Regions from separate parts of the Homo sapiens genome. Here region 1 is linked to region 2. The links come from fine-mapping of genetic effects on plasma protein levels. A gene starts in region 2. The other region holds a variant in brackets. All regions are shown on one strand. Distances are from middle to middle.

Evidence for each region. PIP is the posterior inclusion probability: the model's chance that the variant is causal. Protein levels are from antibody-based Olink assays in UK Biobank. Linkage for the fine-mapping came from a reference panel and not from the study's own genotypes, which makes the PIPs less certain.
Region 1: its variant is fine-mapped to the plasma level of the EGFR protein (UK Biobank, PIP above 0.99).

What each region holds. Positions count from the first base shown.
Region 1 is chr7:55,166,832-55,171,330 of GRCh38, forward strand. It overlaps EGFR (epidermal growth factor receptor), which reads left to right. Exons shown (of 28, transcript NM_005228.5): 16 at 4,344-4,382. Among named protein-coding and RNA genes, the nearest start is that of EGFR-AS1, 20 kb to the right of the region's middle. The variant C/T (reference allele first, on the strand shown) is at 2,272.
Region 2 is chr7:55,017,355-55,021,354 of GRCh38, forward strand. It overlaps EGFR (epidermal growth factor receptor), which reads left to right and starts at 1,663. Exons shown (of 28, transcript NM_005228.5): 1 at 1,663-2,011. The coding sequence starts at 1,924. It overlaps LOC105375284 (a long non-coding RNA gene), which reads right to left and starts at 1,568. Exons shown (of 4, transcript XR_007060329.1): 1 at 1-1,568. RefSeq lists an enhancer at 2,663-3,337.

The DNA of each region.
Region 1 (4,499 bases), 150 kb after region 2:
GCAGTGTTGGTGGTGAGGAGGTGGGAGTCACAATGGTGGTAGTGATGATGGTGTTGATGGTGGTGAGGAGGTGAGAGTCACAATGTTGGTGGTGTTGATGGTGGTGATGGTGATGAGGAGGTGGGAGTCACAATGGTGGTGATGAGGGTGGTGATGATGATGAGGAGGTGGGAGTCACAATGGTGTCAGTGTTGATGGTCCGATGGTGATGAGGAGGTGGGAGTCACAATGTTGGTGGTGTTGATGGTGGTGATGATGATGAGGAGGTGGGAGTCACAATGGTGTCAGTGTTGATGGTGGCGATGGTGATGAGGAGGTGGGAGTCACAATGGTGGTGGTGATGACGGTGTTGACAGTGGTGACGAGGCGGGAGTCACAATGGTGTCGGTGGTGATGGTGGTGAGGAGGTGGGAGTCACAATGGTGGTGGTGGTGATGGTGGTGATGGTGGTGAGGAGGTGGGAGTCACAATGGTGGTGGTGTTGATGGTGGTGATGGTGGTGAGGAGGTGGGAGTCACAATGGTGGTGGTGTTGATGGTGGTGATGGTGGTGAGGAGGTGGGAGTCACAGTGGTGGTGGTGATGAGGGTGGTGATGGTGATGAGGAGGTGGGAGTCACAACGTTGGTGGTGATGATGGTGTTACTGGTGGTGACGAGGTGGGAGTCACAATGGTGGTGGTGGTGATGGTGGTGAGGAGGTGGGAGTCACAGTGGTGGTGGTGTTGATGGTGGTGATGGTGGTGAGGAGGTGGGAGTCACAGTGGTGGTGGTGTTGATGGTGGTGATGGTGGTGAGGAGGTGAGAGTCACAATGGTAGTGGCGATGATGGTGTTGGTGGTGAGGAGGTGGAAGTCACGGTGGTGGCGATGATGGTGGTGAGGACGTGGGAGTAACAACAGTGGCAGTGACGGTGATTGAGACATGATGATGATTTGTCAACTTTCTAGGAAAACAATCATATAATCTCCAACAGTGATATCTTAATATCTTTTCCAAAAGTATCAGATCATATTATAAGGGCCAAGTTTCCAGAATAATATCAGACATAATGACAGTGGACATCAGAGCTTGGCATCTAAAGGTAATGGGAATAGCTCTAATGTCTCAGCGTGAAAAACAACATTTGCTATTAGTCTGAGATACTAATTATCTAGTTAAGGAAGTACTCACCTATACCTAGTTTTTAACTGTTTTTTAAAATCTGGAATTGATTTTGAATTTTAACAAATATTTCCCTGGGAACAATGTAAGATTCTTCATATTTTCGCCTTTGGGTATACCAACATGCCAGCTCTGTTGGCCACTTTGTGAGCTCGATGAAGCATGGTATAAAAGATGCTTTGCTAGTGTTTCACGTAATCTATTTCTATAAGCAATTTTGGAGCTAAGCCTCTGAAACAGAATTATATTATCTGTATAGAATAAATGTTTTATCTTCCCCCTTTTCTTTCTTCTGGAATAGATGTGCATCAGTATCTCTGCATCAATATCTCTATATCAGTATCTCTGTGTCAGTGAGCATATGTTGCTGGGCTTAGGGGAGGTCCAGAAAGTGATTGGGTTTTGGCATTTTCAATACACTTACTTTGTATAAGAAATAGTTTGCCAAATATAGAAAGAGGGGATTTAGTCAAGATTTAAATTAAAAATGTTAGTGGTCATTTTTCTAATGTCTTTCTATTTTTTCCCAGGTCCTAATAAATCTTCACTGTCTGACTTTAGTCTCCCACTAAAACTGCATTTCCTTTCTACAATTTCAATTTCTCCCTTTGCTTCAAATAAAGTCCTGACACTATTCATTTGACATATGGAATTTTATAAATATTTTCTTTAGTATGTGTGATTACATTCCTGATTCTGAGCCTTTTTAGATGAGTATATAGTTTGATATAATCTTGTTATTGCCACCTGTGTCTTCTCCCAAAGCCATTAATTATATAGGAATTACACGATAGAAATGGGTTTAATTTTTAAAATACGGCCAAGTGTTGATGAGAGGGAAAATTTTTTTAATTTCTTTCACTGAGTATTTATGACGTGCACAACATTCCTGAATATATTGTCTCTCTCATTTCTCAGATGGGATGTATTGCCTTCTCCATTTCTATTGTTAAAGAAACACTTACAGGGGTTTCTTTAACAACTTGTGAACAGCAGCATCAGAGCCCAGACTACAGCATAAGCAGCTGCTGATTCCAAAAGCCCTACCTTCCAACCGGGCAGGTGCAGCCACCCAGACGAGGGGGAGGAACCCTGGAGGAATAGCTATTT[C/T]TTTTTTTTTTTTGTCGAGACGGAGTCTTGTTCTGTCACCCTGGCTGGAGTGCAGTGCCGTGATCTTGGCTCACTGCAACCTCCACCTCCCAGGTTCAAGCAATTCTCCTGCTTCAGCCTCCCGAGTAGCTGGGATTACAGACACCTGCCACCACGCCTGGCTAATTTTTGTATTTTTAGTACAGACAGGGTTTCACCATGTTGGCCAGGCTTGTCTTGATCTCCTGACAAGTGATCCACACACCTTGGCCTCCCAAAGTGCTGAGATTACAGGCGTGAGCCACTGCGCCCAGCAGGAATATCTATTTTTAAATGGAACTGTGTTTTCATAGTACACGGTGAGGAGAAAGTTGCTTTGAAATCTTTATCCTAATAAACCAAATAATATGAAAATTTGCCTATTTTAATTATATGTAACAAAGTTTAGTTACTGCTATAATTGCAAATATGTATAAATTCCTTACCAAAAAAAAAAGAATCAAGTGGGAGCCAGAGAATAATTTTTCTGACAGAATTAAATAACATGCTATAGCTGCTTGAGTTCATACTCAATAGTCATTTCTGCAGAGTTACCGAGGGCCTCATCAGCGTCAGCAGGAGCCCCTCGCCTTCTGACGCTCTCACATCCTTCTCTCCTGCAGCCCCGTCCTGCCACTGTCCTTGTCCAGCTTCTCTTCAAGGGTCAACTGGTCTACCTTTCCCTACAAGTCTGTCACAGCTTCTTGTTAGCAATCCCTATGGTTGCCCAAAAGCATTTTCAGAGCCTGCATAAGACTGCATCTTGTAGAAAATTTGCAGTTTCAATCTGCCCTCCCTCTGCCGGGTGTTCCCATTGTATTGCATTCAGCAGGCAGGGAGAGACTGCTATTAGGTCTGTTCCTGAGTGACTGCTTTCTGTCTCAGACTGTTTGGTGTCTGTAGGAGGTAGTGGGGTGGGCAGTAACGAGGTCTCCTGTATATTCCACCCCTACGAAGCCTGTGTGTTTGGTTTATGAACTAAGCTCAAAAGCACCACAGGGGTAAGACTGCAGTACATGACACCATGGAAAAGAGGGAGCACCCAGACCCCCAAATTAAGAAGAGCAGTGTAGAGAACAGAGACCTGGAGAGCAGAGATAGAAACTGTTAGGATCAGATTATAGTGTTACACCAGGGCTCCCCAGGCCTCTCACATATTGAAATGTACTTGTCCATCTTTCTCCAGGCCAGGAAATGAGAGTCTCAAAGCCATGTTATTCTGCCTTTTTAAACTATCATCCTGTAATCAAAGTAATGATGGCAGCGTGTCCCACCAGAGCGGGAGCCCAGCTGCTCAGGAGTCATGCTTAGGATGGATCCCTTCTCTTCTGCCGTCAGAGTTTCAGCTGGGTTGGGGTGGATGCAGCCACCTCCATGCCTGGCCTTCTGCATCTGTGATCATCACGGCCTCCTCCTGCCACTGAGCCTCATGCCTTCACGTGTCTGTTCCCCCCGCTTTTCCTTTCTGCCACCCCTGCACGTGGGCCGCCAGGTTCCCAAGAGTATCCTACCCATTTCCTTCCTTCCACTCCCTTTGCCAGTGCCTCTCACCCCAACTAGTAGCTAACCATCACCCCCAGGACTGACCTCTTCCTCCTCGCTGCCAGATGATTGTTCAAAGCACAGAATTTGTCAGAAACCTGCAGGGACTCCATGCTGCCAGCCTTCTCCGTAATTAGCATGGCCCCAGTCCATGCTTCTAGCCTTGGTTCCTTCTGCCCCTCTGTTTGAAATTCTAGAGCCAGCTGTGGGACAATTATCTGTGTCAAAAGCCAGATGTGAAAACATCTCAATAACAAACTGGCTGCTTTGTTCAATGCTAGAACAACGCCTGTCACAGAGTAGAAACTCAAAAATATTTGCTGAGTGAATGAACAAATGAATAAATGCATAATAAATAATTAACCACCAATCCAACATCCAGACACATAGTGATTTTAATTATTTAAGAGTAGTTTAGCATATATTGCTTTATGATTTAATTAAAAATCTCCAAAATATATGCCAAAGAAGTAGAATGAGAAAAATGTATATTTCTCTTTCACTTCCTACAGATGCACTGGGCCAGGTCTTGAAGGCTGTCCAACGAATGGGTAAGTGTTCACAGCTCTGTGTCACATGGACCTCGTCAAGAATGACCACACTGCTGTGGGTGAAGATGCTTTCCTGCATTTCTGACTGTCCTCTGTCCTGATCAAGTTTCTATGGCT
Region 2 (4,000 bases):
ACTCAAAGAAATTCCTGTACAGTCTTACAAATCAGTTGTAGCTTAAATTGATTTGTGTTGTGACTTGTACACACAGGTCACATTCCCTTGACAGAAAATATAGTTTAAAACCAAATTTGCAGCCCTTGTTAAGTGAATGCACAGGACTTTATTGTATTCAGGTCTTTTATTGTAAGACTCACTCCTGTCTTCATTTTATGTTCCACTGTTGTGCTTCCCATTTGCCTTTCTCTAGTTTTGTTTTCTGTGTTTCTACGGACTGCTCTCAGCCCAGGTGTGCAGGAAGCACACACATGCCTGCAGAGCCTTCATGGCCTCTGCATTCAGGGCATGACTTCAACGCACAGTGGCTGTACTGATTTGTTAAAACAAAGGAACAGATTACTTCTCCTAATTCACAGGGAAGTTCCAGGTTGTGCGGGCAGTGAGCAGACCTGTGTCTGTCTGCGCTTGCCCTGGTGAAAAACCCCACCGTTCAGGCTGCAGGGTGCGAGACCCAGGCACAAACATTTTGCTGGATGAGGAGGAAAGATGTAAGGTTGCTCCCCTTCAGAGACAGCAAAGGGCAGGTCTGTAGCTTCACTTACTTCAGGATTGTGATTTTTGACAGAGCCGAGAGATCAGGGTTGTTGAACCAGGCCTGAAGGTCCTAGTGAATCTCGTGAAGAGAGGAGGGGTCTGGCTGTAACATGGACCTAGAGGACATTTTTACTGCAGGAGAAGGAACAGTGGGGATGGGGTGGACTTGCCAAAGGAATATAGCTCAAGTTCCTGCAGCCCAAAAAAGCTCAGTTTCTTTTGGCCAAAGCTTCCGCGAGTTTCCCTGGCATTTCTCCTGCGGGAGCTACAGGGGCAGTGGGACACTTAGCCTCTCTAAAAGCACCTCCACGGCTGTTTGTGTCAAGCCTTTATTCCAAGAGCTTCACTTTTGCGAAGTAATGTGCTTCACACATTGGCTTCAAAGTACCCATGGCTGGTTGCAATAAACATTAAGGAGGCCTGTCTCTGCACCCGGAGTTGGGTGCCCTCATTTCAGATGATTTCGAGGGTGCTTGACAAGATCTGAAGGACCCTCGGACTTTAGAGCACCACCTCGGACGCCTGGCACCCCTGCCGCGCGGGCACGGCGACCTCCTCAGCTGCCAGGCCAGCCTCTGATCCCCGAGAGGGTCCCGTAGTGCTGCAGGGGAGGTGGGGACCCGAATAAAGGAGCAGTTTCCCCGTCGGTGCCATTATCCGACGCTGGCTCTAAGGCTCGGCCAGTCTGTCTAAAGCTGGTACAAGTTTGCTTTGTAAAACAAAAGAAGGGAAAGGGGGAAGGGGACCCTGGCACAGATTTGGCTCGACCTGGACATAGGCTGGGCCTGCAAGTCCGCGGGGACCGGGTCCAGAGGGGCAGTGCTGGGAACGCCCCTCTCGGAAATTAACTCCTCAGGGCACCCGCTCCCCTCCCATGCGCCGCCCCACTCCCGCCGGAGACTAGGTCCCGCGGGGGCCACCGCTGTCCACCGCCTCCGGCGGCCGCTGGCCTTGGGTCCCCGCTGCTGGTTCTCCTCCCTCCTCCTCGCATTCTCCTCCTCCTCTGCTCCTCCCGATCCCTCCTCCGCCGCCTGGTCCCTCCTCCTCCCGCCCTGCCTCCCCGCGCCTCGGCCCGCGCGAGCTAGACGTCCGGGCAGCCCCCGGCGCAGCGCGGCCGCAGCAGCCTCCGCCCCCCGCACGGTGTGAGCGCCCGACGCGGCCGAGGCGGCCGGAGTCCCGAGCTAGCCCCGGCGGCCGCCGCCGCCCAGACCGGACGACAGGCCACCTCGTCGGCGTCCGCCCGAGTCCCCGCCTCGCCGCCAACGCCACAACCACCGCGCACGGCCCCCTGACTCCGTCCAGTATTGATCGGGAGAGCCGGAGCGAGCTCTTCGGGGAGCAGCGATGCGACCCTCCGGGACGGCCGGGGCAGCGCTCCTGGCGCTGCTGGCTGCGCTCTGCCCGGCGAGTCGGGCTCTGGAGGAAAAGAAAGGTAAGGGCGTGTCTCGCCGGCTCCCGCGCCGCCCCCGGATCGCGCCCCGGACCCCGCAGCCCGCCCAACCGCGCACCGGCGCACCGGCTCGGCGCCCGCGCCCCCGCCCGTCCTTTCCTGTTTCCTTGAGATCAGCTGCGCCGCCGACCGGGACCGCGGGAGGAACGGGACGTTTCGTTCTTCGGCCGGGAGAGTCTGGGGCGGGCGGAGGAGGAGACGCGTGGGACACCGGGCTGCAGGCCAGGCGGGGAACGGCCGCCGGGACCTCCGGCGCCCCGAACCGCTCCCAACTTTCTTCCCTCACTTTCCCCGCCCAGCTGCGCAGGATCGGCGTCAGTGGGCGAAAGCCGGGTGCTGGTGGGCGCCTGGGGCCGGGGTCCCGCACGTGCGCCCCGCGCTGTCTTCCCAGGGCGCGACGGGGTCCTGGCGCGCACCCGAGGGGCGGGCGCTGCCCACCCGCCGAGACTGCACTGTTTAGGGAAGCTGAGGAAGGAACCCAAAAATACAGCCTCCCCTCGGACCCCGCGGGACAGGCGGCTTTCTGAGAGGACCTCCCCGCCTCCGCCCTCCGCGCAGGTCTCAAACTGAAGCCGGCGCCCGCCAGCCTGGCCCCGGCCCCTCTCCAGGTCCCCGCGATCCTCGTTCCCCAGTGTGGAGTCGCAGCCTCGACCTGGGAGCTGGGAGAACTCGTCTACCACCACCTGCGGCTCCCGGGGAGGGGTGGTGCTGGCGGCGGTTAGTTTCCTCGTTGGCAAAAGGCAGGTGGGGTCCGACCCGCCCCTTGGGCGCAGACCCCGGCCGCTCGCCTCGCCCGGTGCGCCCTCGTCTTGCCTATCCAAGAGTGCCCCCCACCTCCCGGGGACCCCAGCTCCCTCCTGGGCGCCCGCGCCGAAAGCCCCAGGCTCTCCTTCGATGGCCGCCTCGCGGAGACGTCCGGGTCTGCTCCACCTGCAGCCCTTCGGTCGCGCCTGGGCTTCGCGGTGGAGCGGGACGCGGCTGTCCGGCCACTGCAGGGGGGGATCGCGGGACTCTTGAGCGGAAGCCCCGGAAGCAGAGCTCATCCTGGCCAACACCATGGTGTTTCAAAATGGGGCTCACAGCAAACTTCTCCTCAAAACCCGGAGACTTTCTTTCTTGGATGTCTCTTTTTGCTGTTTGAAGAATTTGAGCCAACCAAAATATTAAACCTGTCTTACACACACACACACACACACACACACACACACACCGGATTGCTGTCCCTGGTTCAAGTGTGCCAAGTGTGCAGACAGAACATGAGCGAGTCTGGCTTCGTGACTACCGACCATAAACCCACTTGACAGGGGAAACATGCCTTGGAAGGTTTAATTGCACAATTCCAACCTTGAGCTGCGCGGGTTCCAAGAGCCAGGCCCGTACTTGCTGTTGATGTCATTGGCTTGGGGAGTTGGGGTTTGGTGCCCAGCGCGGTCGTTGGGGGAGGGGCAAGGCATAGAACAGTGGTTCCCAGACCTTGCTGCACATTGGAATTACCTGGGATTAAAAAAAAAAAAATCAAAACAAAAACCAGTGTCTGGCTCCCGCCCCCAGACATTCTGATTTAATTGGCATGGGGCAAGACCTGGACTTGGGATTTTTTTTAATGCTCTTCATGTGATCTGTTGGGCAGCCAGATTTGGGGATCACTAGACGGAAGAAGGATTGTTAAAGTCTCCGGAGATGTTACTTGCCAATGCTAAGAGCTCTTTGAGGACATCTGGAATTGTTACAATATTGCCAAATATAGGAAAGAGGGAAAAGGTAGAGTGTGATTCCAATAATAAAGGATTCCGCTTTTCATTGAAGGAACTGGTGGAAAGGTTTCTTCTCTGCTGAGCCTGCAGGCCCGTCCTGCCTGCCTGGGGTGCCCGGGAGACGCGGGCCTGCTCCGGAGACTGCTGACTGCCGGTCCTGTTAGTCAGGTGTCAGCCCTGTCTCTGCCGAAGAGACTCTTCTCTTTATTTTAAATTA